Linked DNA regions of Homo sapiens. The protein of the gene in region 2 purifies or fractionates together with the protein of the main gene of each other region. This does not show direct contact. Each region holds a gene or a part of one and is shown on either strand. Other genes may lie near its edges. The genes, in order: SULF2, BRD1, ZC3H15 and DRG1.

What was found.
Region 1: the proteins of BRD1 (region 2) and SULF2 purify together in Homo sapiens (affinity purification with mass spectrometry; 2 studies listed by BioGRID and IntAct, with this or other methods). This does not show direct contact.
Region 3: the proteins of BRD1 (region 2) and ZC3H15 purify together in Homo sapiens (affinity purification with mass spectrometry; 2 studies listed by BioGRID and IntAct, with this or other methods). This does not show direct contact.
Region 4: the proteins of BRD1 (region 2) and DRG1 purify together in Homo sapiens (affinity purification with mass spectrometry; 2 studies listed by BioGRID and IntAct, with this or other methods). This does not show direct contact.

What each region holds. Positions count from the first base shown.
Region 1 is NC_000020.11:47,774,931-47,782,932, reverse strand, and holds part of SULF2 (extracellular sulfatase Sulf-2 isoform a precursor), read left to right. Parts: intron 1-3,278; exon of another isoform or gene 3,279-8,002. UniProt on the Homo sapiens protein: Exhibits arylsulfatase activity and highly specific endoglucosamine-6-sulfatase activity. It can remove sulfate from the C-6 position of glucosamine within specific subregions of intact heparin.
Region 2 is NC_000022.11:49,796,311-49,804,312, forward strand, and holds part of BRD1 (bromodomain-containing protein 1), read right to left. Parts: coding exon 7,894-8,002; intron 2,810-7,893; coding exon 2,678-2,809; intron 2,377-2,677; coding exon 2,248-2,376; intron 1,808-2,247; coding exon 1,495-1,807; intron 1-1,494. UniProt on the Homo sapiens protein: Scaffold subunit of various histone acetyltransferase (HAT) complexes, such as the MOZ/MORF and HBO1 complexes, that acts as a regulator of hematopoiesis.
Region 3 is NC_000002.12:186,482,402-186,489,259, reverse strand, and holds the start of ZC3H15 (zinc finger CCCH domain-containing protein 15), read right to left. Parts: upstream 3,001-6,858; 5' UTR 2,878-3,000; coding exon 2,803-2,877; intron 1-2,802. UniProt on the Homo sapiens protein: Protects DRG1 from proteolytic degradation. Stimulates DRG1 GTPase activity likely by increasing the affinity for the potassium ions.
Region 4 is NC_000022.11:31,416,205-31,424,206, reverse strand, and holds part of DRG1 (developmentally-regulated GTP-binding protein 1), read right to left. Parts: intron 3,952-8,002; coding exon 3,782-3,951; intron 928-3,781; coding exon 797-927; intron 1-796. UniProt on the Homo sapiens protein: Catalyzes the conversion of GTP to GDP through hydrolysis of the gamma-phosphate bond in GTP. Appears to have an intrinsic GTPase activity that is stimulated by ZC3H15/DFRP1 binding likely by increasing the affinity for the potassium ions.

The DNA.
Region 1 (8,002 bases), on a different chromosome or scaffold from region 2:
TGTCCCAGATGTAGAAGAAACACATATGCAGGGGAAGAAAACACCTTCAGACAGTCAAACTTTGCAAAGTAAAAGGCCCTTAACTTTCCATAAACCCCCACTGTTCCGACAGAGAGTCCGGGTTTGTATTTGAGGTTTTTTGCCCCAAGGAAAACATGTGTCTGCCTGGTGCTTTTTCTTCTGCTTATGAGCAGACACACTGTCCCCTCCCCCAGTCAAAATGCAAAGGGAAACATCAAATGCAGCTGATGGAAAAGCCAGGTGAACCATGGTGAAGATTTCAGCCCACTCAGAGCACAGTGGCCAGAGAGCAAAAGCTCTCCTAGAGGTGAGACCTTCCTGTGGTTGGTGATGGAGTCTCGATGGCCTGGCCCTGGGGGTGGTGCCAGGGTGCTCTGTGTCAGGCCTGGGCGGATGTGGAAGATGGGGGCCTCTCTCAATGCTGATCTGCAGGTGAGGGGGCCCTCCCTGAAACCTGCTTTCTCTGGGCCTCCTTGGAATGGGCCTTGGTGGAGATCTACAGACAGCCCTGGCCCAGCCGGATTGAAGGCACTGTCTAATTGGGAGGGCATTAAGATCGTTATAATTAATTGGCATCCCGATAAATGGCATGGTTGCCTAATTGGGGTGGTTGCTAGGGAACGAGGCCTCACTTGGAGCCTAAAGGGGAAGAAGCGCTGGGCTGGCCACAGTTGGGTGTCAGGGTACAGATCCAGCAGTGAATGGACCGGAAGGGAGAGCAGTCCATCCGTATCTGCTGGTGTTTACTGAGCAGCTGCTGTGTGCAAGTTGCAAATGGAGTATCAGTTAGGGGTACTTGCCTAGAAGAACTGTAAAGTAATCAGGTTCCTTTCTCTTGCAAGCAACGGAAAAAGAGAAGAAAAAAACTCAAGCCAGCTTAAGGAGAAAAGAAGTGGACTTACTGGTTTTCATAACCAAAAGTCTTAAGGTGACTAACTCTAGCTTCAGACACAGCTGGACCCACAGCTCAGATTTTGTAATGAGAATCCATTCCTATCCACCGCTCCTCTGCCTTCCATGAGGCTGATGTCTCTCCAGCTCTGGGGCGGGCAGTCCCTGGCAGCTGTGGGCACCGTGGCTAGGAGAGCCAGACTGCCTGGCTCCCTGCCCAGCAGTGGGATCTGGGGCATGCTACTTAACCTTTCTGTGCCTTGATGTTCACATCCAACAAATGATGATGATCATAGCACCTGTCTCCTGCTTGTGGTAAGCATGAAATGAGATGATCAATGTCAAGTGCTTAGCAGGGCGTCTGACCCAGGTGAGCCTTCAGTAGGCATTGACTGTTACCATAACTTAGGTGTCAGGACAGATGTCATGGAGCAGAGGGGTCTCATCCCCTCTGGTTTAAGCCCAAAAGGAAAGAACAAGCCTCTGATCTGGCAATGCACACCTGAGCCCCATGGTTCCCTCTGATTGGACTGTTTTTTGTCCAAACCAGTCACTGGCTAAGGAAATGAGTTGCCAACAATTGGCTTAAGCCAGGCTCACAGGCCTCTCCCTGGAGCTGGATGGAGGCTGACTGCTGAGACCCCAAAGCCTGGAATAAAACAGCACGGGGAGTCCCCAGTGAAAGGGAAGCCCGGTTGCTGGAGAGGCAGATGGCCAGTGCCTGCGATGATGGGCCACTAATGTGAGCAATGCTGGCCAGATGGACCCATCTTCATTTTGGCCAAGGTGGAGACTGGGGAAACACGCTGCCTGGGCAATGCCTCTCCCTTCCACCAGGGCCAGGAGGCATCAAAGGCCTGACTTTTCTGCCTTACTGTCTGAAGGATGGGGCCTGGCCTTGATCCTGTGCTTTCGGGGGGCCAGGGGCAGTGTTTGTCTAACCTCCCACCATGAGAATCATCTGGCTGTATTTGTTTAAAAAGGCAAAGACCAGATCCTGTTGAATCAAACTTCTAGGGAGGGTCCTGGATGCTGGGGGGCATGACCAATATGTCATGTGTATATTCTATATCAGCAGGAGGGTTTGGCGAAGAGAGCTCTGGAGCGTGGGCCTCTTTGTCTTCCTGCCTAATGCAGGGGCTGTCAGAAGGCGGGGAAAATGCTCTAGGCCTGGCGTGCTGGCTCATGCCTATAATCCCAGCACTTTGAGAGGCCGAGGTGGGAGGATCCCTTGAGGTCAGGAGTTTGAGACCAGCCTGGCCAACATGGCAAAACCCTCTCTCTACTAAAAATACAAAAATTAGCCAGGTGTGATGGTGCTTGCCTGTAATTCCAGCTACACAGGAGGCTGAGGCACCAGAATCGCTTGAACCCAGGAGTCGGAGGTTGCAGTGAGCTGAGATCGCACTACTGCACTCCAGCCTGGGCAACAAAGTGAGACTCAGTCTCAAAAAAAAATTTAAAAGAAAAATGACTGCATGATGTGATGGGGTGGGAGGCAACTTTAGGCAGGCTGTCAGGGAGGCCTCTGTGAGGATGTGACCTTTGAACTGTGACCTAGATTTTAGGAAGGAGTCCGCCTTGGAAAGATCTGGGGGAAGAGCATGCCAGGTAGAAGGAACAGCTAGTGCAAAGGCCCAGAGGCGGTGGGAGGGGCCTGTCCAAGACACCTGCCCCAAACACAAATAGAAGTCAAGTGGGGTAGGCCAGGCGTGGTGGCTCACGCCTGAAATCTCAGCACTTTGGGAGGCTGAGGCAGTTAGATCACTGGAGGTCAGGAGTTCAAGACCAGCCTGACCAACACGGTGAAACCTCATCTCTGCTAAAAATACAAACATTAGCCAGGTGTGGTGGCACGTGCCTGTAGTCCCAGCTATTTGGGAGGCTGAGACAGGAGAATCACTTGAACCCGGGAGGCAGGGGTTGCTGTGAGCCGGGATCACACTTCTGCATTCCAGCCTGGGCAACAGAGTCAGACTCTGTCTCAAAAAAAAAAAAAAAAAAAGTCAACTAGGGTAGAGGGTCAGGAGTAAGTGGGGGAGGGCACGTCAGAGATGAGAAATACAGGCCATGCTAAGAAATTTTAGACTTTATTTTAAATAAAATGGATAACTGTCTGGACGCGGTGGCTTATGCCTGTAATCGCAACACTTTGGGAGGCCAAGGCGGGTGGATCACCTGAGGTCAGGAGTTCAAGACTAGCCTGGCCAACATGGTGAAACCCCATCTCTACTAAAAATACAAAAATTAGCCAGGCACGGTGGCGCACACCTGTAATCCCAGTTACTCGGGAGGCTGCAGCAGGAGAATCGTTTGAACCCAGGAGGTGGAGGTTGCAGTGAGCTGAGATTGTGCCATTGCACTCTAGCCTGAGTGACAGAGCAAGACTCCATCTCAAAAATAAATTAAAAAATAAAATGGAGAACCATTGGAGGGTTTTAAGTCAGAGAATGATATGATTTGTGTTTCAAGAAGATCCTGCTGGCTCCTGTGAGAGGCGTGCTGTGCAGATGGAAGTGGTATCACCGGGACTGTTAGGCAACAGAGAGGGCCCGAGAGTGGCTTGGACCGTGGTGGTATCAATGGAGATGGAGTGAAATGGGGATTGGAGATGTATTTTGGAGGTAGGGCCCACAGGACTTCCTAGTGGATTGGATTACAGAGTGAGGGAAAGGGCTTTGATTCTCAACCGAGGGTGATTTTGACACCCAGAAAACATTTTAACACTATCCGGAGACAGTATAGGTTGTCCCAACTGGGGAAGGGTTGCTACTGGCATCTAGAGGGTAGAGGCCAGGGATGCTGCTTAACCTGCAATGTACGGGATGACCCCACAGTGAAAAATGATTCAGCCCAAATATTCATGATGTATCCTGCCAAGGAGTCAAAGGTGACTAGGCAGCCTGGTGCGTGGTGATTGCTAAATAGGGAAGATAGGAGAGAAGGTTTTGGGGAGGAGGAGTGATCTGGAATTCCGACGTGGAAATGTTGGGTTTGAGATGAACCCCACCTGGATGTCTGAAAGCTCAGTGGGTGGTGAACGTGGATGTCTGCAGCCGGTCGGGGCTGGCAACCTAAGTTTGGGAGTTATCGGCATATTGATGTTATTTTAAGCTGTGGGACTGGACACAATTATCCAGAGAGAATGTGTTTTGTTTTCTAGTGTGGTTTTCTCCCCCCAGCCTCCCCCTAGTGCCTGTCATGAATCTATTTGATGAATATTTTTAGCATATCCCACATGCTCACCTCTCTGACATTTCCAAGAAGTTCCTGAAGGCTCGGGCTGAGCCTCCCCTTCTTCATCGCCTGGTTTCTCAGTGATTAACAGACAGAGCTAAATATTCATTGCTCTGCCACAGATGCCCTTGGGAAATTGCTTAAGGTCATGTGGGATCTCGGGCCTTGTAGGCAGCACGATGCCTTCTGGGTGGAACAGCTGTTGGCATGGCCTTCAGAGCTTCTCCTCCAGCCCAGGCCAGGGCTTCTTGGAATTCTCTGTAACCAGAATGTTTTGAATTCCCCACGTTCTCTTAATGTGATTCCAAAGCACACGTTGCCCAGTGGCCCTGGCCTCTGCCATGGAGCGTCATCTTACAGAAGGCCTGGCCCACTGCTCTGCACACCTGGGCCCAGCTTGAATCTTAGATAAATTCTATCCCAAACTCAGAGTTGTTATGGCCAGGTCTTGTGTGTGTAAGTTGGTGGACAGGGCCATCCCCAGGGACCACAAATAGTACCAAAGATGTGTTTGGCCATGTGGAAGCCAGATGTGTTAGGGGAAGAATGTGGCCAATAGCTTTTCTTATTGGCTCATGGTCAGGACCCCAGCGGGTGACTTGACCCACCCCAGTAGCCAGAGAAGAGGAGCTTTTTTGTTTTTGAGACAGGGTCTTGCACTGTCATCCAGGCTGGAGTGCAGTGGCACAGTCTCAGTTCACTACCACCTCAACCTCCCAAGCTCAAGTGATTCTCCCACCTCAGCCTCCCAAGTAGGTGGGACTATAGGCACAGGCCACCATACCCAGCTAATTTTTTTTTTTTTTTTTTGGTAGAGATGAGATCTTGCTATGTTGCCCAAGCTGGTCTCAAACTCCTGGGCTCAAGTGACCCTCCAAAAGTGCTGGGATTACAGGCGTGAGCCACCCTGCCTGGCCTGGAACTTTTTGAAAAGAGATTGAAAAAACTGTTAGCTCACAGAAGCCTTGGAGATGTTCCTGCTTGGTGAAAATCAGACCATCTGAAAGCCACATTTCTGGTCTGCTCTCGAGACAGATACTATCCATAGACTTCTGATTGCAGGCCACTTATCTGGATATTTCAGAGACCAGGAAAGCCTACTATAATTCTTAGTAGCTTAGAGTCCTGATCATTTTAATGTGAATTGAAATGGTTTCATTATGAGGAATCACATTTCTGACTGACAGTGGCTTATGCAATAGAAACATTTAATTCTCACATAACACCAAGTCCAAAGCAGGGGAGTCCAGGCGCTGGTTTTTCAGTACAACAGTGTCATCCAAGGTCCCAGGATCTTTCAAGCCTCTTCTTCTGTCCTCATCATGTCTTTGGCCTTGTTGCCTCATAGTCTCAATATGGCTGCCACAGCTCCAGACGTCGCATCACCCTACAAAGTGGGACTATAGGACAGGACTCCTTGCTGTCTCTCTTTTAATCAGAGAGTAAAATCCTTGCCAGAACACTCCCACCCTAGCAGACTTTGCTTTCTGTTTCATTGGTCCGGAGTTGGGTTTTGCACTCACCTCTAAATCAAACACTGGGAAAGGACCTGGCTCCTTCCTATGCTTCGGATCTCAGCTGAAATGTCACCTCCCTAGAATGCTGGAAGGACAACCTGTTTTATGTTTTATAACACTTATCACTCTCTGGAATTAGCCTGGTTTGCTTATTTGTCCTTTGTCTTCTCTCTCCTCACTAAAAAGCAAGCTCTGTGCTTGTAGGGACATTGTCTGTCTTGTTCATCGCTGTATCCCCAGCACTGAGAACCAGGGTGGCACTCTTTGGATACTCAGTAAATTTTTTTTTGAATGAAGGAAGCAAGAAAAGAAAGAGGCTTGGAGAGCTACAGGCACATCTGGCTAGCATGTTTGCTCGAAGGTGACTGCTCAGGGCAAGGATGTCAAAACCTGTTAGTCATTTGCAAAAAGCTAAGCAGGTGGCTGGGAGGATTGGTTTCATACACACTCACTTGCTCCCCAGTGCCAGAGCTGGGGTTTTGTGCTAGCATTGCTTGCAGAGGAAGGATCGTCCCCTTTATGCCACGGCAGGGACCTCACGGCCTTGCAGAAGGGCTGGTGGAACCCTCCACTTCTGATGACTCTGGGGCCAAGCTAGTCTTCCAGGTCAGTGGTGTGACATTCTAATGAGGGCTCTTGGGTTAAATATTTCTGCATGTGCCCTTGAAAAGACAACTCCCTTCCCTAAATTGTCCCTTCCTGAAAGAACAGCGGTCACAGCCCAGGAGAGCAGCCTCTTTAACCTCCACTCCCCAACCTACCCTCCTGAAAGCTCACATTTACCGAGCACTTTGTACAGGCTAGTGGTGGTTTAAGTGCGCGCTCCTGTGAATGTGGAATAACTCAGCGATGTGGGGATCTTCCAACCCCGTTTTACAAAGGAGGAAAGAGACACAACGAAGTCTCTCCTTGCTCTGCCATGCTGGTAGAATAGGACATCACAGGCCACCTAACCAGGGGCTCTGTTCAGCTCGCAGAAATGTTTTGTTTGAACCTTCTAAAAAGCTGTCAGATTTGTAACAACTACGAGATTTCACATTTTAAAAATCTGGATTTTCAGCTTCTCCTGAAAAATGGGGAGATGTGGTCCCCACCATCCCCTATAGCCTGACATTGTGAACCAATTCATTTGGCTTTTCATTGCACTTTCCCTTCTGTTTTTCTCATTGTGGAGCAATATTTCTCTGTTCCATCTCTACCAAAAGTGGCCAGATGAGAGCTGGAGAGGAAGTGGGGTGTGGAGTTTTCTTATGCGTCCACTTCACCCGTTTACATTATCTGCCTGGCCCACGTAGGCATTTGAGTTTGTCTCCCGTTGTGACACTTTGTACCCAATGGCTACACTTCCAGGGACATTGCAAGTGTCCCTGGACACTTACATTGTGCATTGCAAGTGTGTAGTAATAATAATGTCTAATATCTATTGATTACTTTTTGCCCAGCATTTCATCATCACAGCAAGCCTTTGAAGCAGGGACTAATATCATCTTCACTTTATCAGTAAGGAAACTGAGGCACTGTGTGTGATGCCCTCACTAGAACAGGAGGTCCTGAAGCTTGTTCATCTTTGTACCATCTGTGCTAGGCTTACTGGCTGTTTGAATGAATGACTAAAGGAATGAATGAATGATGTTCTCCTCCAAGTGTTCATTAGCCGAAGAGGCTGAAAGTCTTAACCTCATAGTCATTTGTGACATTTCTGTTGGGGGAATGGGCTCTGATCAGTGTCACTGAGGATTCTTGGGTTGTGTTTCTGCTGTATAACAAACCACTCCAAACTCAGTGGTTTAAGGTAACAACATTTTATTTTGGACGATTCTGTGGTTTGACCAGGTGGTTCTTCAGCTTCATGTGATATCAGCTGGCAGGTCTAAAACAACCCCATTCAAATGGCTGGCAGCTCTTGCTGGTCACCAGATGGGAGCTCAGTTATTCTCCATGTGGGCTCTGCCCTATGGCTACTTGGGCTTCCTCGCAGTATGGCAGGTTCAGGGTAGCCTGACTTCTAAGAGTGCAAAAATGAAAGCTGCCACGGTCTCTTAAGGCTTAACCGCAAAACCGGCACAGCATCACTTCTGCCACCTTCTCTTGGTCAAAACAGGTCCCAAAGCCAGCCCGGTTTCATGAGGTGGGGCCCACACAAGGGTTTGAATACCAGGCAGTGTGGCTTTTTGGAGTCCACCAAAGTACCCATTCATCACAGACTGCAAGTAGCAGAGCCCAACACTTACTACCTCAAGCTGGAACAGGATTTACTGGGGGGCTCAGGAAAGGACAGGTCAGGAACTGAGGAAATTCTGGGGACCTTGGCGCAGGAGTTACTAGCAGCCTCCTGA
Region 2 (8,002 bases):
GTCTCGACCTCCTGACTTCGTGATCCACCCGCCTCGGCCTCTCTCTTTTTTCTTTTTTTTTTTGGAGATAGGGTCTCACTCTGTCACCCAGGCTTCAGTGCAATGGCACAATCTCCGCTCACTGCAGCCTCCACCTCCCAGGTTCAAGCGATTCTCCTGCCTCAGCCTCCGAAATAGCTGGGATTACAGGCATGCGCCACCATGCCCGGCTAATTTTTTGTGTTTGCAGTAGAAACGGGGTTTCTGCATGTTGGCCAGGCCGGTCTCAATCTCCCGACCTCAAGTGATCCACCCGCCTCGGTATCCCAAAGTGCTGGGATTACAGGCATGAGCCACAGAACCTGGCCCTATCCCCAGTCTTTAAAAGAGTACAGCCCATCCTCCAATCCTCACAGGTGCCGAGTGCTGCGGGACCCCACGGGAAGCAGGGAGCCCAGCACTGCTGCCATGAGGGGAACAGAGGGCGAAGCAACGATGGCCCAGCTTGGTTGAATCCCATGATGGCGGGAAGCGGACCCCACGATGGCGGGAACGTGGACCCCGCGATGGCGGGAACGTGGAAGAGAGGAAGAGGGCCAGGCCTCATCCCAGAAGAAGCGACCTAGCACGGGTCAGTGATTCATCAAGAGAAAGGGTAGGCCAAGAAATCAGGGATATGGGACCTTTAGACAAATAAGCCAAACACACCGTGATTTCTGCTCAGTTTGTGGCTCAGAGCTGGAGCTGAGGTGCTGGAGCTCTATGTGCTTTGACAACCCATGTGGGCAGGACACACCCTTCGACAGACAATCCCAGAGGTGCGACTAACAAGCAGGGTGCAGGGGACAGCCCCGGTTTCCGAGGACCAGTCTAGAGAAGGGTGCAGGTGACTACACATGGCTGCAACACGTGCCTGGGCAACCAAGAAGCACAAGCCCAGGCTGGAGTCCAGGTGGGCCGTGGACACACTCCCAGAGCCCTTTCTACAACATGCGCAAACCACGAAGTTAAAGGGCTGGAGGCAAAGCCAGAGATCCTCCGGCTTCACGCCACCCTCAGAAGTTAGCCGAGGCCCACTCTGGATGAAAACCCCCAACTAAGCTGCTTTCTGGGTCTGCATCGTCGAGACCGGCCACCCCATAGGGAGCCACAGCCACACAGTCCTCTTGGTGGGCACCCAAAACGCAGCCAGTCTGAAGTGACAGGTGCTGAGCGTAAAATACACATCAGATGGCAAAGAAGGTGAAAAGCTTATATATCCTCAGTAACGTTTACCGATCCCATGTTGAAATCAACTCTTCCATACACTGAGTAAAATAAGACATATTATTAAAGTAAATTCCACCTGCTTCTTTTCCATTTTTCAGTGAGGCTACTAGAAAATGTAAATGATGTATGCGGTTGCATGCTAGTGGCTCCCGGACCATGCTGATAGGGAGCTGGCAACACAGAGCAGGACAGAGTCTGCTAGAAAGAGCGTCTTCCACCTCCTCCGGACACGGCGCCAGTTCTTACCGTCTTCCCAGGAGAAAGGCCGCCGCGGTGCCGCAGCAGGCCGCTCAGGCAGGTGCATCCCCGAGGCCTCTTCCAAGCCGATGCTGTCCACCTCGCGCCGGGCCTGCCTCAGAACAACACCTCCCTGATCGCGCAGCCTCACCGCGGCTCTATAGAACACGGTGTCCCTGGCATTGTACTTCATGCAGTTATCTATAATGAGATCAAAATCCTCCTCAAACTCATGGAGGTTTTTATACCCTTGAGCTTCTAACCGTTTCCTCATTGTGGCAAAGTCCATGGGATGTTTAATGTGATCCAAATAATCTGGTACCTAATTTTAGGGAGGAAAAAGAATCATTTACAAACTAAAACAGGATATTAGTTGACTCTATATTTATTATTCCATATAACCCACAAGCCCATCCTATCTGAGAGCCACACACAGACACGCAGACGGTACAGACATAAGACCCAAGTACTGCAGGGACCTTCCCGACCCCAGCTCCTTCAGCTAAAGCACGCTGGAGGGTGCCGGGCGGATGCTGCCACAGCCCAGGGTACTGTCTGCACAGGGCCTCTTGCCCACTGCACTTTCAGTATTTTACAATGAAATGTATCACTTTTATAATTTAAAAACAAATACGTTAAATAAAAACGAGAATTAAGAACACAAGGGATGTACTCTAGCCAATCACACGTTTCCCGGTCAAACGGCAGCACAAATCCACAGTCACACATGCGGCAGGACAGACGAGCGCCGCAAACACCCACCTCCTTCAGACTCACGGGCTGCGCAAATATCCTGGCGGGGTCCTTGTCTTGCAGCTGGTCCAGCACTGAGCGCAGCAGCACCGTCAGCGGGGTCAGCCGCAGCTCCATGGCGACCTGCTCCACCTTCACCTGGGGGGGCCCAGCAGAGCCTCAGCTTTAGGGAGCCGCACATGCGTCTCAGCCCCACCACGCGCCCCACAGCCACAAGCAGCCCCCACAGGCTCCTGTGCTTCCGTCCAGGCATAGGACAACGCAGCCTCCACTTAGGGCTCTGCAACCCATGGCAGCCAGGCACCCAGCCTGGGCTGAGCAAGGCACTGCTGTGGGCCAGGACCCACCGGGTGCAGCCCACCCTCTGCAGGAGCTGCCAGCGTCCCACCCACGCCCCGTGGCCAGTGGTGCACTCCACGCGGGACAGGCCCAGCCCCACCTGCTCACGCTTGAGCTTCTCCCGCTTGCGCAGCAGCTCGATCAGCAGGCGAGCGCGCTCCAGGTCGTGCCGCAGCCGCTGCCAGTACTTCAGCTTCTCTTTGGCAGCCTTCATCTCCTCATCATTTTCTCTCTGAGAACAGTGAACACTTCCGTCAGTCAAACCCAGAGGCTCCTTCTGCAAAAGGCCTCAGATACCATGCAGGTGAGACCCCAAGAGGCATCCACGTCAGGGGTCCTGCAGGCCCATCCTGGGGAGGACAACAGACCACCCTCACTAGAGAGCCCCAGGACAGCACCGGGACAGAGGGGACAGAGGAGACAGAGGGGATGGAGGGGACAGAGGGGACCGCCAGGCCAAGGTGAGCAGGGGGCTGGCCCCGGTGCACAGGTTCCACCCTCCAGAGAGGACAGAGGCCTCCGCAAGCTGGCGGCGGGGGGGGCCTTCACAGAACCAGAAAGGCCCACAAAGGCGGGGCCAGGACAGAATGGGGGACCCTTGAGGACCCACCTCCAGGACAGCTGGGAATGGAGGGAGCGGCTGGAAAGAAACCAGGTGCACAGAAAACCACATGCTGGGCCCATCCTGGCTTGGACAGAGCATGACGGGGGCCTGGCACACAGCCGACCTGCTGCCCTGCCCTGCACAGCGCCTCCATCCCGACACACGTTTCCCCACAGCCAGGGTCCCATTTCCATTGATAGCACCTGCTCCCTTCTCAGTGGACAGAAGAGTGCGCCAGACAGCACAGGCCGCCAGCCTCAACCCAGCCAACATCCACACCAGGGTGATCAGAAGAAAATCAGAGCCCTGCAAAGGCCATGACACAGATGGTCGCAGGAGAGTAGGCCACCTGGGTCTGCCCTCAGCCCTGTCCTCACCATGTCCCCCAGGCCTGGCCGCATGAGGCCTGCTCGTCACAGTGCCGGGGCACCCTGACCCTACCTCAAAGGGGAGAGGAAGTCAACGAGGGAGTTGGCCTGAGTGGGCCCCCAACACCTGTCATCCTCCACAGCTGCAGGACACGCGCGCCCTGCCAGCCTCAGGACAGCCGTGGCCATCAGTTTCTGGCACATGCTTCACAGCCCTGAGACCCTCCTCTCCCCCAACGCCTCTGTCCCCGGGTTCCCACCTGCCCACCTCAGGGTACTGTCATAGCTTTTCAAAGGACCGAGGGTGTGAAGGCAAAGACTGCTGGACTACAAGATGCAAGGACCCCGGACTCCAAACTGCTCAGAAAAGGAGGCTCAAGGAGGGAGGCCGAGCCCCGCACCCCCACCCCCAAGGCCAGGCCTCTCCATGGCGAGGCAGAGCGTTGCTGCGCTGATGTCCCCTGAAGTGAGGATCTCTGGGTTTTCCTCAATGCTGCTGAACACCCTCAGGCAGGAAATCGGGGCTAAGAGTAACAAGATCCACATCAACTCAAGCAAAGGCAGGAAAATGTGGGCTCCAAAAACCAAGCTCCCCGGAGCATCTGAGTATTGCCTGTCCCTCAGCTTGCAATCGACACTTCTGAAAACCTCGGCCAAAAGGACATTTGGCCTGGGAATCTGTTACGAAGCGGAAGAAATCTCCTCATCACCAGGAAGCCCTTTATCACGCACTGGCTGCTAAGCAAACTTACTAGTCTGCTCCCCAACCTGGTTTAACAAACGCCATCGGCAGTGGCAGGGGCCCCGTTGACAGCACCTGGGCCCAAGGTCCCATGACACATGCAGCCTCATCCACTCAGAAGGATCAAGGTTCCTTACTCGGCTCTCAAGGGCTCGATATTTCCCATGTAAAAATCAACAGTGGGAGGCTCCACGAGAAAGGACAGAAGTGAAGAAGCACTCAGGCATCCCCACTGCCGGGAAGAAGCTGAGCGCCTCCGCGTCCATTCCAGACACATGGGGGAGACACAGGGCAGGGCTAGGCGACGGTCAGGTTAAAATCGCCTCTGCTGGGAGGACAGGCCAGCTCCTGGGGTGAGGGCCCACAGTGTTACAGAGTGGCCGACCCCAGGCCTCCTGGCAACAGCACCCAGCTCCTGCCACTGGGCCCAATGCCGCCAGCAGGTGCGTGGGACTGGCAGAGGCCACACACGCAGCACAGCAAGGACGATGTGGGCAGCAGCGCCCAGCATGCCACAGGACAGACACTGGGAAAGCTGCAGGATGCGCTCCCAGGACAGGAAGGGTGGGCCACGGGAGCAGGAGACAGTGGGACGCCACCAGCATACACACAAATCGCTGCTCACCCTTTATAAAGCTAAGCTGCCGCCCCCGTTCTCCCTGCGGCCTTCAACGGCCACACACACCAGAACAAAAACCAGGGCCTATATGCGCAGCCAGCACAGACCCGCCATCGCTGCAGCACCCTCGGCGCCTGCTGGCCTCTCAAGAGACCCCGTCCAGTTCATCCACCTGCCCCCACCACAGGGTCAGGCTGGGGCAGGTACACAGAGACACAGAGGAATCAAATGCATCAGGTACTTCCAAAGCTTCAAAACCATGAAACCACACCAAGCCGTGGCCATCCCTGGCCAGGAGAAGGCAGAAGCACAGTCTCTCCCAATAGCCCGTTCACACAGAGGCAGGTTTCCAGGCTCTCCACGCCGACTGCTCTGCTGCGGCTCAAGTCCAGGCAGCTCCTTCTGCTCCTTCCCAGGTGACTTCGAGAAGCTGCCCCCTCTGCCAGAAGAGCTGCTCTGGCCGGGCTGTGGGGATGTTCTCTCCTTACAAACGTATTCTGCACACAACAGGACGTGAGGCCTAACAGGCAGCGATGAAGCAGAGGGGGCCCAGCTGGCAGGTTCCAGCGGGTCACCTCTTCTTTGCAACCCTCCCCCTTCCCTTGCCTGGCTCCACCACGCCCCAGGCCACCCCCAGCTGCCTGGGTCCCCGTGGCCCCTGCCCACTGGCCCACGTGTCCTGCTACTGCAGGGATTCTGGCCCTCGTGTCCCAGCTTATGAGAGTAGAAATGATGATTCCCACCGCTGGACGTCCCGTTTGGCCACATCCATGCCCACTTTCCATGGAATCTGCCCTTCAACAGCTCCTCTGTGACTTACCTGGAGTTCTGTCCAGCCCCGAGATAAGACCCAAGATCTGAACCCTCAACTTCCTCCCAAAAAAGCCTCTCTTCCATTCCCCAACATCGCAGGGGCGGAGACCAATGCCTCCACTCTCTTCCTTTCCCCAACATCGCGGGGGCCGAGACCAATGCCTCCACTCTCTTCCTTTCCCCAACATCGCGGGGGCCGAGACCAATGCCTCCACTCTCTTCCTTTCCCCAACATCGCGGGGGCCGAGACCAATGCCTCCACTCTCTTCCATTCCCCAACATCGCGGGGGCCGAGACCAATGCCTCCACTCTCTTCCTTTCCCCAACATCGCGGGGGCCGAGACCAATGCCTCCACTCTCTTCCTTTCCCCAACATCGCGGGGGCCGAGACCAATGCCTCCACTCTCTTCCTTTCCCCAACATCGCGGGGGCCGAGACCAATGCCTCCACTCTCTTCCATTCCCCAACATCGCAGGGGCCGAGACCAATGCCTCCACTCTCTTCCTTTCCCCAACATCGCGGGGGCCGAGACCAATGCCTCCACTCTCTTCCTTTCCCCAACATCGCGGGGGCCGAGACCAATGCCTCCACTCTCTTCCTTTCCCCAACATCGCGGGGGCCGAGACCAATGCCTCCACTCTCTTCCTTTCCCCAACATCGCGGGGGCCGAGACCAATGCCTCCAGCCCCCAGAGCTTCCCGCCGCTCAGCCACTTCCTGACTCTGGCCTCTTAAGAGCCCCCCAAACCGTGCTGTCCTTTCCAGGAGCCCTGGAGGCTACGAGGTGAGGACAGAGGAGAGATGGAAAGCCAAGTCACATCATGGAACGGAAGATGCGGTTAACTCATTCAACAGCCAAAAGACATTCACTGAAGCCTCAACTCTGTGGACACGTGAGGATCTCACTTGGAGAGGGGCTGGCTCACAGACCTGCCCGGGGAGCCCCAAGTTCCATGGACAGACACACAGTGGGGCAACCCAGGTGGACGGCACGGGAGACCTGGAATATTCCACAGCCAAGACGCACCAAGGCCGTCAGAAAACTTTGGACCCCACCACACCAAATCAGACCCACAAACCACCACCTGCCAGACCAGAGCACCAGACTCTGTAGTTCCCTGGAGCACAAGGCAGCCACGGCAGGTGACTGAACAGGGCTCACGCTGCAGAGGCAGAGTCTGCGAGGCAGAGACAGCACCGGCCACCGCACCACCGCACGGGGACCCAACCGTGAACCCTGTAGACTCAAGCTTCCTGTGAGCAAGTCACCACCTCACAGCAGAGCAGGATGGTTTCGCTTCGTGCCCAGGATGGCAGTGAAAAGCACCATGAGGAAATTCCAAGAGGCACTCAGGCCACGCGACGCCAGCAGCAGACAGCTCTTCCAAAAGACCAGCGGCTCCTCACTAGGCAGCGTGGGCAGAGGGCGCTGGCCGCAGGTCCTGGGCCGTGTGCAGAGCTGCTTGTGTTTTCAATTACTTTTGTGCATCTCACAGAAGCTACTTCACTCTGTAAACCCATTTTTTCAGAACTGTTTCACAGTATCAGATGAGTCTATAAACTCAAACCTACTATCAAAATGTAAGAGTTTGGGTTTGTTCTTTTAAAAAGGAAAAGTCCTGCTCCTTCCCTCCCACTCTCTCAGCTCTCTCGAGCCCTCCCCACCCCACCACAGTCCCAGCTAAACCAACCTTCAGAGCAAGGCCCTCGAAATAAACCACTCCTCACATATTTCCAAAACCCACCCTCCAGGCCCAGCACACAGACCCCCACCCACATGGCCCGGGTGTGCTCACCGGGTCCCACTCCTGCTGTCCCCAGCCCGGACGCTCATGCAGCCACAGCATAACACATCCCTGAGCATCCCCAGTCCCCAGAGCTGGCCACTGCCCATCAGCGTGTGTGCGGGCAGGGCAGGGCGGGGGAGCGCAACTCAAAACGGAAGAAACACCCAGTGACAGGCATGGATGAGAATCACCCCCCGAGTCGCAGATCCAGAGCCCAGTGCACCCGACTCCTCCTACAGCTCCAGGGCTGGACGAGACGGAGGCTTCCCAACGGGGAGCCTGAGCCCAGGGGGCAGCACCGTGACCAGCCTGAACCAGGTGCCCTCTCCCTGGAGGGTGGGGGTGAGAGACGCAGAAAGGCTGTGGGGGCCACGAGCCACGTACCTGCTGTGAGCTTCGCTGAGACTGCAGGCTGGACTGCAGCCGCCGCAGCAGGGGGGCCCCGTTCCTGGACAGCCGCTTGAGCAGCCAGTAGCTGTGGGCTCGCTCCACA
Region 3 (6,858 bases), on a different chromosome or scaffold from region 2:
AAATATTGTTGTACCTCTCCAGTAGTAGCAAATATCAATGTTGCACATGAGTCTGACAAACTTTGTTGCAGTATTTTTTGAAAAAGCTCATCAGGTCCCTGGACCAGAACATAAAAGAACATCTAGATTACAAGATGTCAGGCTAGGAGGACCTTCTTAAAGGCAAGTGGACACATTTCAAAGGAAACAAACTATGATCACTGAGAAACAAATGGAATATTTGAACATCTTGTTCACTAAGAACCCATACCCAAACCTCAGTCTTCAGAAAGAAATGGCCTCAAAGACATACATCCAACGGTACTGCAGGTTAGGTTAAAGAATGATAGCACAAAACACAAGAAAGCAAAATGCAAGCATATTCAGCAAAAGCAAGAAGCTCAACAACTGCAATTAACTGAGGGTGTAGTCAAGACCAGTCCTTCCCAGAGAAATAGACACACCACCCAGATCCCCTAATGATGCCTATCCTGTAGCTCTAATGTATACAGATGATTGGACACTCTCATGCCAACTCAGCGTATGCCCCAAGGTTAAGGTCCCTACAGATGACTCCATTAGCCACAAAATAATCCATTCTGGCTGCCGAGATTTTAACAAACACCGCCTCTAACCCATTTTGGAATCCTAAGTTTGTTTTTCAAGCGTCAATTATAACGTCTTTTGGTTCCTCCAAGTAGAGAGAGACACTAAACACAAAAGGTGACATATTGTAATGGTTCCCATACAAGAGAATACTTTTCAGCAATAAGGAACATACTAGAAATATACACAACATGCATGGATCTCAAAAACACTGCATGGTGTGAAAGCAAGAAGAAGGACACAAAGGCTACCTACTGTATAATTTATATGAGTTCCTAGAGTGGTAAAAACTAATCTATCCTGTCAAAAAAATTAGTGGCTGCACGTGTGGAAAGAATTAAATAGAAAGAGGCACAAAACAAATTTAGTGGGGTGATAGAAATGTTTCAAGTCTTAATTAGGGTGGCAGCTACCTGGGTGAATAAATTCCTCAAAACACATAGAACTATACATCTAGAACCTGTACATTTTATTTTACATAAGTTATACCTCAACAAAAAATAAATTAAAAAAATAATATATATTAAATGTAGAAAACACAAAATCGGGCTTAATTTCACCACTTTGTTGTTGTTAATATTTTTAGTTAAAAAGTGCAGTTGTCTTATTTTGCATTTTTCTTTGGAGATACCTTCATTATTGAAACTAAAATTGCTTTCTCTTTAGCTAAAAAATAATTTCGTCACAAGATGACTAGAATCATAACATATGCATCATTTTAAAAGTTGATGGATACTATAAACAACTTTCACACATAATTCCTTAAAATAAGAATACTAGTCCTACTAATTAAAAATAAAACAATTAGATATAGAGAAAGCTCTACAATGCATGAAGTATAATTTAAATTGTCTAAATTATTACATAACATTTAATTTCAATGGGAGTTTTACTTCGTATCAGGGTCCAATCTCGAGGAAAACGACATCCCTAAAATGTCCTTGGTTTTCATAAAAGTGAATGCCATCCGATCAGCAACCCCTGAAATTTACCTAAGTGCCACGAATCCAGATTGTTCAAATAAGGTAATAGAAAACACAGATGTGAAGGTAATATTTTGTTTTTAAGTGTCTGGCTATAGTACTTCATGACAGTTTTAAACTGTACAAATTGGCAATAAGAATACCAGTTCTCCTCCAAAGTTGGAACCTGGCCAAGTATAGCAAAATTCTTAAGCATTTTCTTAAATCCAATGAGCAGACTTTACACCTTATGCGGTAAAATGGTCATGGCTTTTTCTAATTATATCCAAAGTACAAGAGGTCCTATTTAATTATGAGGAGGATTAATAGCAGAAATCGAGGGAAGAAATACCTCGTTGGGGTCTGTATGGTATGTTTACGTAATGTCAAATATGGTTCATCTTTTAAGGAAACTCAATTCAGTTGTTGGAAAACAAGTGCACAACATGTAAGAACGTCAATAGCGTTCCTTGGCCATTAAAGGGCTACAGGCTCAATGTGTTAAACGAATATATATACACACACATATATACACATATACACACACATAGATGTATACATATATACACGCGCACACACACACATATATCTCAAACTGGGTTACGGGACTTCACACAATTAGTGACACTGAAACCTAATCTCTTTTAAGGCGTTATCCTATTTAATCCACTTCAGAATGTAAGTACCAAGCTCTGCGTTCAAGACCCTGGGTTGTGACGGAAAGTCCTTCCATTCTTTATGGGACTTTAAACATTTCAGAGGTGGATCGAAAAAGCCACCAAGTCGTAATTTGTTGGTTCAAAAGAACTAACAGTACCATCCCTGGGTGACGGGTAAAGAAATAACGAACACAAAGACTCGTCATGAGTCGGTCTTCCAGAAAGACGCTGGCCCGAGACCGTTCAGCGTATTTCTTCACACATAACCTTGGAAAATCTCCTCAATTCTGAGAGGACTAGCGAAGGATAAAACCCTGTGCCAGTCCCGAGGGGTCATTTCGCACCCGGGTGCATGGGTGGGTGAACACGGGCGTGTGGGCGGAGAGGCAAAGCCCAGGTGCGGGGGCGCCAGCAGCGTCACTATAGTAATGAGAGAGCTAGCGTCATCAGGGGCTGGAGAAGGGGCAGTGGGCCACACAGGCCTAAGGGAGGAACACGTGGCCCGAGGAAGCGAGCCGGCTCCCAGGGAAGCCCGGAGCGGGGAAGTGGCTTTCCGGAGGGCTCGCGGCGTGAGTGGGGGAGGGGTGGGTACTCACTTCGATAATCTTCTCCTTCTTTTTTTGCTCCGCCTTTTTGCTGCCCCCGGCCTGAGCCTGTTTCTTGGGGGGCATTGCGGAGACAGATGGCACCGGCCAGACTTACGCGCAGCTGAATACCGTCAGGGGTTCTGGCCCTGCGGCAGGACGAGGAGGAAGACCGGGGCCTCACTCGCCGCACCGCACGGAAAGCGAGTCGCTCATTGGCCCCGCAAACGCGGCCTTTGCGACAGGTCGATGTCGCAGAGCATAGTGGGTAGCGAGGAGCGGCTCCCGGAAGCGGAGCTGCGCGTGCGCGCCCACTGCGTCCCACTAGGAGGGGGCAGGGACGGGACGTGGGAAAATGACTACGCGTCACTCGTGATGTCGCGCATCCGATAGGCCCTTTTCAGATGGCAAAAGGCCTGAGGGTGAATCTGGGCGAGCTGGTTGAGTCCATGCGTTTGTGCTTCCTCTCAGTCCACTTTCGCTTACGATGGGGCGACTCTTGTCCATCGTCACCTCACCGGGAAACTTTTCCTGCCGGGCCAGTTAATGGTCCCCTGTACCATCCCCATCCTGAGTGACTACTAAGCAGCCGCAGCGACTCGGGGTTGCTCCGTGACCACGTTACTCAGTTAACCTTCTTGTTCCCTGGAGAGGCGGAGCTGAATGGCCCGTGAGTGTCGCGTGCTTCAGATTCCTGCGAAGGATTATTTAAAAAATGGAAAAAGTTAACTTTCATTTGCAGGGTCCCTTTCATTTGAAGAGCATCTGAGATGGCGTCCCAGATAAGGAGGCACTTGAACTCCTTAGAAGTACTGTATTAAGTTATTTTGAGACTTTAGGAGAGTGCCTAGGTGATTCCTAAAAATTCCTTTATAACGTGAAAGTAACCAAACTTAGTTAGAACTTAGTTTAAGTGCTTGGTAGCTCCAGAAATTCCTTGGCACATTACACACACTATTTCATTTAGTTATCACAACGACACTTAGGTGGGAGTTGTTACTGTTTTCGTTTTATAGATGAAGCAGAGAAAGGAAGAAAGATGCCCAAAGTTATATTAAGGACAGAGCCAGCAATTGTAATCTTGGCAGTCCGGCTTCAGCCTATATGCCTATTACCTAACATTACAAACTTAGATCCTGTTTGAAAAGGTACTTGAATGATGAATGGGACCCATTGATATTTGTACAAACGAAAATACTATTTTTTAAAAATGTACAATGCTTAGCTGTTATTTTTTAAAATGATTATTGTTTAAACTATTTCTGTTAAGAAGCATTGTGGAACCAAGAATCATCTTTATAGATAAAAGTTTTTTTATCTTTTTCATTAATTTGAATAGGGAGAAAACGATAAGCCCCCCTACTTAGTCAAATTGATTATTTGCTTAGTAATTTTCTACGTAAGATAATGTCAAGGAACCCCAAGTATGTTTTGTGTGTGTATGTGTGTGTGTAGAAGAAATGTGATAGCTACTAAAAAGAATTGTGTCGAGAATGGCAGGTGTATGTTGACACACTTTTTTTCATTTGGGCTCATATTGGCAGGTTAATGGGCTCCCCCCCTTTTACATATTTTCATCTTTATTTTTTGTAATTGTCATAGTTCTTGTCAGAGGATGGAGGGATGCAGCCAGCCCCCTCTTTACTCAGTATTATTATCCATTTGATTATTTGGGGATCGTCTCCTTTGAGACTTTGTTTGCATATGGAATGTAGTTGTCTTAACTTCCTACTTTTAGTGCCCCAAAGATGCCCTTTGGGCCTTTGATTTTGAGTAATTTTACTGATTATTATTATGAGGCAAATGAATTATAAGTAACAAATATGGGGAAGTTACAAAGAATCTAGAGTCTCATAATGTTATGATAATGGCTCCAGTTTCATGGTTCATAACTTCTTCTGTCTCCTGACCTTTGCTTTCGGTTTTTTCCTCTGAAGTGTAGCCCAGGTAGAGAACAAAGATCCTTTCTTGCCTCAAGTGGAAAATACACATTTCTGAATATAGTACATGCTCTTATAGCACTCTCCCTCGTACACTATTTCTTCATACATTTTAGAAATAAGGAAGTCCAACTCATTGAATTCACTACTTTTTGAAATAAGGTACATGGTTTTTCCTGGTCTCAAATAGCAAATGGTAGCAGGGCTGGGACTTTTATGTCTTCTACTGCTATTTTTATTGACCTTACAATTCAAACGAAACTTTCACAAAACAGTGCTTAGAAGGCATAGTCCAAGGGTTACAATTCATATACCCAAGAAAGCAGGGCTATAAACTTGAGCGTCAGGATGAGTGAAATACATTAGGAAGTTGTGGGAACAGTGTTAAACCTGAGGTAAATGCCCACCGTAAAAGAACTAAAAGAAAAACTGTCAAACCTGACTGCTTCGATTTGGTAGACAGGCTGTGAATTTACTGCCTTGGATATAGCCATTTGGATAACTTTACATTTATTGGAATGTATCAGATGTAATAGATTAAGGCAGTAGATTTTGTACTGAATAGAAATTATTGTTTGCTATCCAGCATTCTAATGTCCTTCTGTATAGGAAGGAAGCCCTATGTCTCAGGCTTTTAATCTCAAGAAAACAAGACAAAGACTCAAAGTGTAGGAATTTTTCAGGGCATTAGAGTGCATGTATGGTATTACCAGTCCAGTGGCGGCAGGCCAGTGTGGCAAGATCCATACAAGTCCTTACTTCATTCTTTGCTATTATTTCTTGCTTCTTTTATTTCCCAAGCCTGATTTTCCAGGCTTCCTATAGATTCTGTGAACAATATTTCCATAAACATATTTGAAGACATAGCTAGAAGGTGGCCATCTGCAAGCCAAGAGAGAAGCCTTGGAAGAAACCAAACATGCTGACACCTTGATCTCAGCCTACTAGCACCCAAAACTATGAGAAAATAAATTTCTGTTTTTTAAGCCACCCAGTCTGTGGTACTTTGTTATTGCAGCCCTAGTAAACTAAGACAGACTCTGATTGATAATAGACCAAACTGTGCTATGGGGTGGTGGGCAGAGACAAGACTACTAGTTTATCTAAGTAAATTTTTGTCATAAAGATAGGACTCATTTGGCCATATAAATTGCTGATCTGTTTTATGGGTTAAGGCAGTACATATTAGGAAGTATTTTGATTTAAATAGTGAATGCTTCAAAATTCTGACATATAGTCAGTCTCCTTTAAGACTTTTTTCCCTCTGAATTAAGATATTACAAAAGATTTGCTAGTGTTTCAGTAAAGCATATAAAATGTCTTTTACCTTGTCAGTTTGAATTTCAATACTGTAAACTTTCACTCCAGCCTACACTGATGTAAAATTTTCTTAAAGTAGGTGACTTAAGTGGGTGAATTCTCTGTTTCTATTTGAAATATTTCTTGGTACCATTATGATAATAGTTATTATGGCATTTGTCAAGAAACCAAGATGTACGATTTCCAAATATTTTTTGCCTCGTTGACACTTAAATCATTTCCAATGATTTAAATCAACCATGTCATTTCCCTAGTAATAGTTTTTTAATGGCTTCTTATGTCTTTCTAAAGGGAGTGTAAGGGATTCCACATCTTCCTCAGCCTATAACATCTGCTTTTTATCTTCTGTTATTTCAGTTCTTACTCCTCATTTTAGGCCAGCTTTTCCTATTCCCCACCTTCATATTCCCTCTCTACTCTTATGTGCCTTCGAACTTTTCATAGTCTTATGTGTATACCTCCCCCCTCCCAAAAAAAAACCTATCTACCTTCCATCTAGGTATCATAACTAGAAACTTTGGTGAGTCATCTTTGATTCTTTTTTCAACCTCCAAATCCAGTCAAGTCAATTCATAGTGATTCTATATCTTAAGGAACCTCTTTCAAATTATTTCCTTCCTACTTTACTATCCTATTTCAGGGCCACATTTTTACTTGGACTATTGCAACTGTTTCTCTTGATCTAATTTCTTCACAATGCATTACTCCAAAAGTAAATTTTCAAATGTATGAATTTGATAGTGTCACCCTATTTCATAACTTCTTTGAAGACCTCCCATATACATATATACAGGTTTTAATTTGCATT
Region 4 (8,002 bases), about 18 Mb from region 2:
ATTGCACTCCAGCCTGGGTGACAGAGTAAGACTCTGTCTCAAAAAAAAAAGGCCGGGCTCACACCTGTAAACCCAGCACTTTGGGAGACCGAGGTGGGGTGGATCACCTGAGGTCAGGAGTTCGAAACCAGCCTGACCAACACGGAGAAACCCCATCTCTATTAAAAATACAAAATTAGCCAGGCGTGGCGGCACAGGCCTGTAATCCCAGCTACTCAGGAAGGCTGAGGGAGGAGAATCGCTTGAACCTGGAAGTGGAGGTTGCAGTGAGCCGAGACTGCGCCACTGCACTCCAGCCTGGCTAACAAGAGCGAAACTCTATCTCAAAAAAAAAAAAAAAAAAGAAACCAAAGCCCACTATCATTTAAGATAGTAGCACAGGCTGGACACAGTGGCTCATGCCTGTAATCCCAACATTTTGGGAGGCCGAGGCAGACGGATCACTTGAGGTCAGGAGTTCAAGACCAGCCTGGCCAACATGATGAAACCCCATCTCTACTAAAAATACAAAAATTAGCTGGGCGTGGTGGTGCGCACCTGTAATCCTAGCTACTCGGGAGGCTGAGGCAGAAGAATCTCTTGAACCTGGGAGGTGGAGCTTGCAGTGAGCTGAGATCACGCCACTGCACTCTAGCCTGGGCAACAGAGTGAGACTCCATCTCAAAAAAAAAAAAAAAAAAAAAGACAGTAGGACAACTGGAATTAAGATAAACTTCTGCCAGATTCAAGATCCAATACTGTTTCCATCACAAGGCTTCCAATTCAGTCAGGCACAGACTGCACACTCAGTCAGTACCTGTTTCCTTCCACCACATCAATGAGGTCATCAGCTGTAGCATCACTACGTAGAGTCACATCGGCATTATGAATCTTGTATTCAGCCAGAATGCTCTTCACAGTTTCAGCATCCAGCTCACTCTGGGGGCACTGAAAGGGAATAGCAGATGACTAGTCAGCACAAAATTTAAAAAAAATACTTGTCAAGTGTACCAATATCCATGTACCTGGAAAATTCTAGCTAAGATGCAAACTCATTACTAAATACATCCGGGATGAGTGTCACTGACTTTTAGTAGGAAATAAATGTCCAAACTCCAAGGAAGGTGTTACACGCTGAACTGTGTTCCTCCTTCCCCCACCAAATAATTCACATGAAGTCTTAACCTCAGTATCTCAGAATGTGATGTATTTGGAGATAGGGTCTTTAAAGCGGTAATCAAATTAGAATAAGGTCATTAGGGTGGGGCCATAATCCAATACTGGTGGTCCTAATAAGAAAAGGAGATTAGGACACAGACACACAGAGCAAACACCATATGAAGTCCCATCTGTAAGCCAAGGACAGAAGCCTCAGAAGAAATCAACCCTGCCATCAACTTCATCTCAGACTTCTAGCCTCTAGAATTATGAAAAATAAATTTCTGTTATTTAAGCCACCCATCTGTGGTACCGTATTATGGCAGCACTGAAACTAACACAGAAATAATCTTAAATGTTCAAATTTGAATATTAAGACGGGATAATGGGAAAGATGTTTTGGGCAGGACAGCTGAAACCTATGCCAGTCAAATCATCTGGGCTCTGAAGTGTTAAATTTAGTAGGAAACTCTCAGTCCTCAATTCTGACAGAGAAGCAGCATTTGACAGAATTGGTCACTCCTATGTGAAACACTTTACTTGGCTTCCAGTATTTCAAACTCTTTCAGTTTTCCTTCTCTCTCTTGGTCTAAGAAGTCTTATTTCTCTGAGTCTCTTTTCTTTCTTTTTTTTCTTTTGAGACGGAGTTTTGCTCTTGTTGCCCAGGCTGGAGTGCAGTGGCGCGATCTCAGCTCACTGCAACCTCCGCCTCCTGGGTTCAAGCAATTCTCCTGCCTCAGCCTCCGAAGTACCAGGATCACAGGCACGTGCCACCACGCCTGGCTAATTTTTGTATTTTTAGTACAGACAGGGTTTTGCCATGTTGGTCAGGCTGGCCTCCAACTCCTGACCTCATGTAATCTGCCCACTTCGGCCTCCCAAAGTGTTGGGATTACAGGCGTAAGCCACCGTGCCTGGCCGATTCTCTTTTCTTTTCTTTCTTTCTTTCTTTTTTTTTTTGAGACGGAGTCCCGCTCTGTCACCAGGCTGGAGTGCAGTGGCGTCATCTCGGCTCACTGCAACCTCCACCTCTTGGGTTCGATTCTCCTGCCTCAGCCTCCCGAGTAGCTGAGATTACAAGTGCGTGCCACCATGCCCGGCTAATTTTTGTGTTTTTAGTAGATACAGGGTTTCACCATGTTGGCCAGGATGGTCTCCATCTCTTGACCTTGTGATCCGCCCACCTCGGACTCCCAAAGTACTGGGATTACAGGTGTGAGCCACTGCACCCAGCTCTCTTTTCTTTTCTATCTATACTCACATCCTTGGTGATCTCAGTTAGGCCCATGACATTAAAGTTGATAATCACCAAATTTATATATCCAGCCTAGATAATTCCTCATGCCTTCTTTATTATTTTTATAGAGATGGGGTCTCACTTTGTTGCCCAAGCTGGTCTTGAACTCCTGGGCTCAAGTGATCCTCCTGCCTCAACCTCCCAAAGTGCTGGGATTATAGATGTACAGGCATGAGCCACCATGCCCAGCCTACCCCACATGCCCTCTTGACTGAAATACCTGGATGTCTCACTGGCATCTAAAATTTAACATCCTGATCTTCTCCTTCCCTCCAAATCTATTCTACCAAAAGTCCTACCATTTTAGTAATAAGAGTTCATTTTTTTTTTAGCTCAGGAAATAAAAAACATGGCTGGGTATGGTGGCTCATACCTGTAATCCCAACACTTTGGGAGACCGAAGCAGGAGACAGCTTGAGGCCAAAAGTTCAAGACCAGCCTGGGCAACATGGCAAATCTCCGTTTCTACCAAAAAAAAAAAAAAAAAAAAAAATTAGCCAAGCCTGGAGGCATGTGACTTAGCCCTAGCTACTTAGAAGGCTGAGGCAGGAGGGTCACTTGAGCCCAAGAGTTTTGAGCTAACAGTGAACTATGATTGTGCCACTGTACTCCAGCCTAAGCAACAGAATGAAACCGACCAGCCTGGCCAACATGGTGAAACCCCGTCTCTACTAAAAATACAAAAGTTAGCTGGGTGCGATGGCAGGCACCTGTAATCCCAGCTACTCAGGAGGTTGAGGCATGAAGCAAATGCTCTTCTTCAAGATATCCACTTGGTTCACACCTTCATGTCACCTCAGTAAAGACTTCCCTGACCAACGTTCTTAAAACTGCAACCCTCACACCAACACTCTTATCTCCTTTCCCTACTTTGTGTTCTTATATTTATCATTGACGAATACATTATATTTTACTCATTAACATTGTTTTCTATTCTATCCAATTAGAATATAAAAGCAGGGGGTTTCACTATTCCCTCTTCCATTCCTGCCCAGAGCCTAAAATAATGCTTGGCCCGTGGTAGGCACTCTATAAATTTGTGTTAAATGAATGAAAACAGAAGATATTGGCGGCCATCTACTTTATGCAAGCATAATATTGGTCCACACGCCCATATCATTCCCAATAGATAATCCAAAAGAGGAAATAAGTAGCAAAGGTAAGTCTGAGACTGGCTCCTATCCTAATCTTGAAGTTTTTCTTGTCAGTCATTATAAAGTCATTGTGTTATCTCAATTAGTGCAGGGAAAAGCCAGGAAATTTTCCAATGTCAGGGTCCATGCACCCCAATCCACTCCCCATTCCAATTCCTGCAGCAGCCTGCCCCATGTCATATTCCCCACTTACAGTGGCTGTGAGATTAATGCCTCCCTTGTCCTTCTTCTTAAAGCCAATGTTGGGGGGTTTGCTGTTCAAGCGAATGCCAAAGCCTTCCAGCTCATTTTCAATTATCTTCTTATGTCCCAAAGGTTTCAGGACATCCAGAACAATCAAGATCAAGTTACAGGTTCGGGCCACTGAAGAGTAAGAAAAAAACATACGCAAGAAAGTTCAATAAAGCCTTAACTAACCCAAATACTCAAGTAGAGGTGTTTTTTCCCCCTACATTTAAGTGTCAAAGGATTTTTCTGTAATACATACATGCATACGTGAAGTTCTTATAGCTACAGAAGATTTATACCAGAAGTCAATTTGCTTTGTATGCCATGAAATCAGCACCTATTTGCCCAAGAGTTGACACATTTTCTGTTGCCCAGGCTGGAGTGCAGTGGCACAATCTTGGCTTACTGCAACCTCTGCCTCCCGGGTTCAAGCGATTCTCCTCCCTCAGCCACCCCAGTAGCTGGGACTACAGGCACATGCCACCATGCCTGGCTAATTGTATTTTAGTAGAGACGAGGTTTCCTCACCATGTTGCCTGGGCTGGTCTCGAACTCCTGAGCTCAGGCAATCCGCCCACCTCAGCCTCCCAAAGTGCTAGGATTACAGGCATGAGCCACTGCGCCCACCCTTGGTTAGCAAATTTTTAACCAAATTTATTGAGGTACAATTTTTTTTTAATTGTATCCATGTTAAAGCACACAGTTCAATAACAAATGTATATACCTGTGTAACCACCAAACCAATCAAGACATGGAATATTTCCATCACCTACAGCATTCCTTTGTGCCTCCTTTCAATCTTCCCCACTATTGCCAGCCAACCACTGATCTGCTTTCTGCCACCATAGTTTGCACGTTTTAGAATTTCATATAAATGGAATCATATAAAATATATTATTTTGGCCTAGCACAGTGGCTCATGCCTGTAATCCTAGCACTTTGGGAGGTTGAGGCAGAAGGATTGCTTGGAGCCAGGAGTTTGAGACCAGCCTGTGCAACAAAGTAAGATTCAATCTGTATAAAAAAAAAAAAAAGTAGTCTTTTGTGCCTGCATATCTTATTTTTATTAATATATATTTATATTGACAGAGACAGAGTCTCGCTCTATTGCCTAGACTGGAGTGCAGTGGCATGATCATAGCTCACTGTAGCCTTTAACTCCTGGCCTCAAGCAATCCTCCTGCCTTGGTCTCCCAAACTGCCGAGACTGCAGGCATGAGTCACAGTATCTGGCCTTTTTCTATATTAAAATTCATTTGTCAAAAATCCTGCTTCCAGCTGGGCACGGGAGCTCATACCTATAATCCCAGCACTTTGGGAGGCTGAAGCGAGAAGATCACCTGAGGTCAGGAGCTTGAGACCAGCCTGGTCAACATGGTGAAACCCTGTCTCTGCTAAAAATAGAAAAACTGGCCGGCGCAGTGGCTCACGCCTGTAATCCCAGCAGTTCGGGACGCTGAGGCAGGAGGATCACAAGGTGAGCTGATTGAGACCATCCCGGCCAACATGGTAAAACCCCATCTCTACTAAAAATTCAAAAAATTAGCCGGATGTGGTGGCACATGCCTGTAGTCCCAGCTACTTGGGAGGCTGAGGCAGGAGAATCTCTTAAACCCGGGAGGCAGAGATTGCAGTGAGCTGAGATTGCGCCACTGCACTCCAGCCTGGGCAACAGAGCGAGAATCCATCTACAAAAATAAATAAATAAATAAATAATTAGCTGGCCATGGTAGTGGACACCTGTAATCCCAGCTACTCAGGAGGCTGAGGCACGAGAATCACTTGAACCAGGGAGGCAGAGGTTGCAGTGAGCCGAGATCATGCCACTGCACTCCAGCCAGCCTGGGCAACAGAGCGCCATCTCAGAAAAAAAAAAATATTCTGCTTCCATCAACTTTCTAGTTCCTCATTTTTTAAAATTCTCTTTTTTGAAGAGACAGGGTCTCGCTTTGTCACTCAGGCTGGAGTGCAGTCGCATGATCATAGCTCATTATAACCTCCACCTCCTGGGCTCAACTGATCATCCTGCCTCAGTCTCCTTGAATATCCGGGACTACACATGTGTGCCATGTCACATGGCTATTTTTTTCTTTTTTTTAATTTTTATTTTTGTAGAGACAGGGTCTTGCAATGTTGCCCAGGTTGGTCTCGAACTCCTGGCCTCAAGTGATCCTCCTGCCTCAGCCTCCCAAAGTGCTGGGATTACAGGTATGAGCCATTGCACCTGACCCTGACCCCTCATTCTTTTTTTGAGATGCAGTAGAGACAGCATTTCACCATGTTGTTCAGGCTGGTCTTGAACTCCTGACCTCATGATCTGCCCACCTCGGCCTCCCAAAGTGTTGGGATTACAGGCGTGAGCCACCATGCCCAGCCTCAGTGGTAGACTTTTTTTTTTTTTTTGAGATGGAGTTTCACTCTTGTTGCCCAGGCTGGAGTGCATTGGTGCGACCTCAGCTCACAACCTCTGCCTCCTGGGTTCAAGCAATTCTCCTGACTCAGCCTCCCAAGTAGCTGGGATTACAGGCATGGACCACCACTCCTAGCTAATTTTGCATTTTTAATAGAGACAGGGTTTCTCCATGTTAGTCAGGCTGGTCTCAAACTTTCAACCTCAGGTGATCCGCTCGCCTCAGCCTCCTAAAGTGCTGGGATTACATGCATGTACCACCATGCCCAGCCTGATTTTATTTTATTTATTTTATTTTTTTGAGATGGAGTCTTGCTCTGTCATGCAGGCTGGAGTGCAATGGCGTGATCTCGGCTCACTGCAACCTCCGCCTCCTGGGTTCAAGCTATTCTCCTGCCTCAGCCTCCCAAGTAGCTGGGACTACAGGCATGCATCACCATGCCCAGCTACTTTTTGTATTTTTAGTACAGACAGGGTTTCACCATGATAGCCAGACTGGTCTCAAACTCCTGATCTCAAGTGATCCACCCCCCTCAGCCTCCCAGAGTGCTGCAATTACAGGCATGAGCCACCAAGCAGCCATGATTTTATTTTTATTATTATTATTTTTTGACACAGAGTCTTGCTCTGTCGCCAGGCTGGAGTGCAGTGGTGCAATCTCGGCTCACTGCAACCTCTGCCTCCCAGGTTTAAGCGATTCTCCTGCCTCAGCCTCCCGAGCAGCTTGGGACTACAGGCGCGCACCACCACACCCAGCTAATTTTTGTATTTTTAGCAGAGACGGGGTTTCACCACCTTGGCCAGGTTGGTCTCGATCTCCTGACCTGGTGATCCACCCGCCTCGGCCTCCCAAAGTGCTGGAATTACAGGTGTGAGCCACCATGCCCGGCCTTATTATTATTATTATTTTTTTTTTTGAGACAGGGTGTCTGTGTGCTGCCCAGGCTGCAGTGCAGTGGCATGATCATGGCTCACTGCAGATTGACCTCCTGGGCTCAAGAGAACCTCCTACCTCAGCCTCCCGAACAGCTGGGACTACAGAAGCATACCACCACATCCAGCTATTTTTTTTTTTTTTTTTGAGACAGAATCTTGCTGTCACCAGGGTGGAGTGCAATGGTGCAATTTCCGCTCACTACAACCTCTGCCGCCTGGATTCAAGCGATTCTCCTGCCTCAGCCTTCTGAGTAGCTGGGACTATAGGCACACGCCACCATGCCCAGCTAATTTTTATATTTTTAATAGACACGCGGTTTCACCATGTTGGCCAGGATGGTCTCGATCTCTTCATCTTGTGATGCACCTGCTTCAGCCTCCCAAAGTGCTGGAATTACAGACTATGGAATTACAGGTACCTGCCACCATGCCTGGCTAATTTTTGTATTTTTAGTAGAGATGGGGTTTCACCACGTTGGCCAGGCTGGTCTTGAACTCCTGACCTCAGGTGATCCACCCACCTTGGCCTCCCAAAGTGCTGGAATTACAGACTGTGAGCCACCACACCCGGACGGCCAGTGATATCTTAAGCCCAGTGACTGAAGTGATAGAAAAGGAGGTCAGAGAGGCAGCCAGGGGCCAGGTCATTTACCGTAGCTTGTAAGCTATGTTAAGACTTTGGGTCTCATCCCAAATAATATGGGAAAACATCAGAAGGTATAGCCAACAAATGACATGATCTGACTTCTTTTTTTTGTTTGCTTTCTTGAGACAGAGTCTCACTCTGTCACGCAGGCTGGAATGCAGTGGTGTCATCTCACCTGACTACAACCTCCGCCT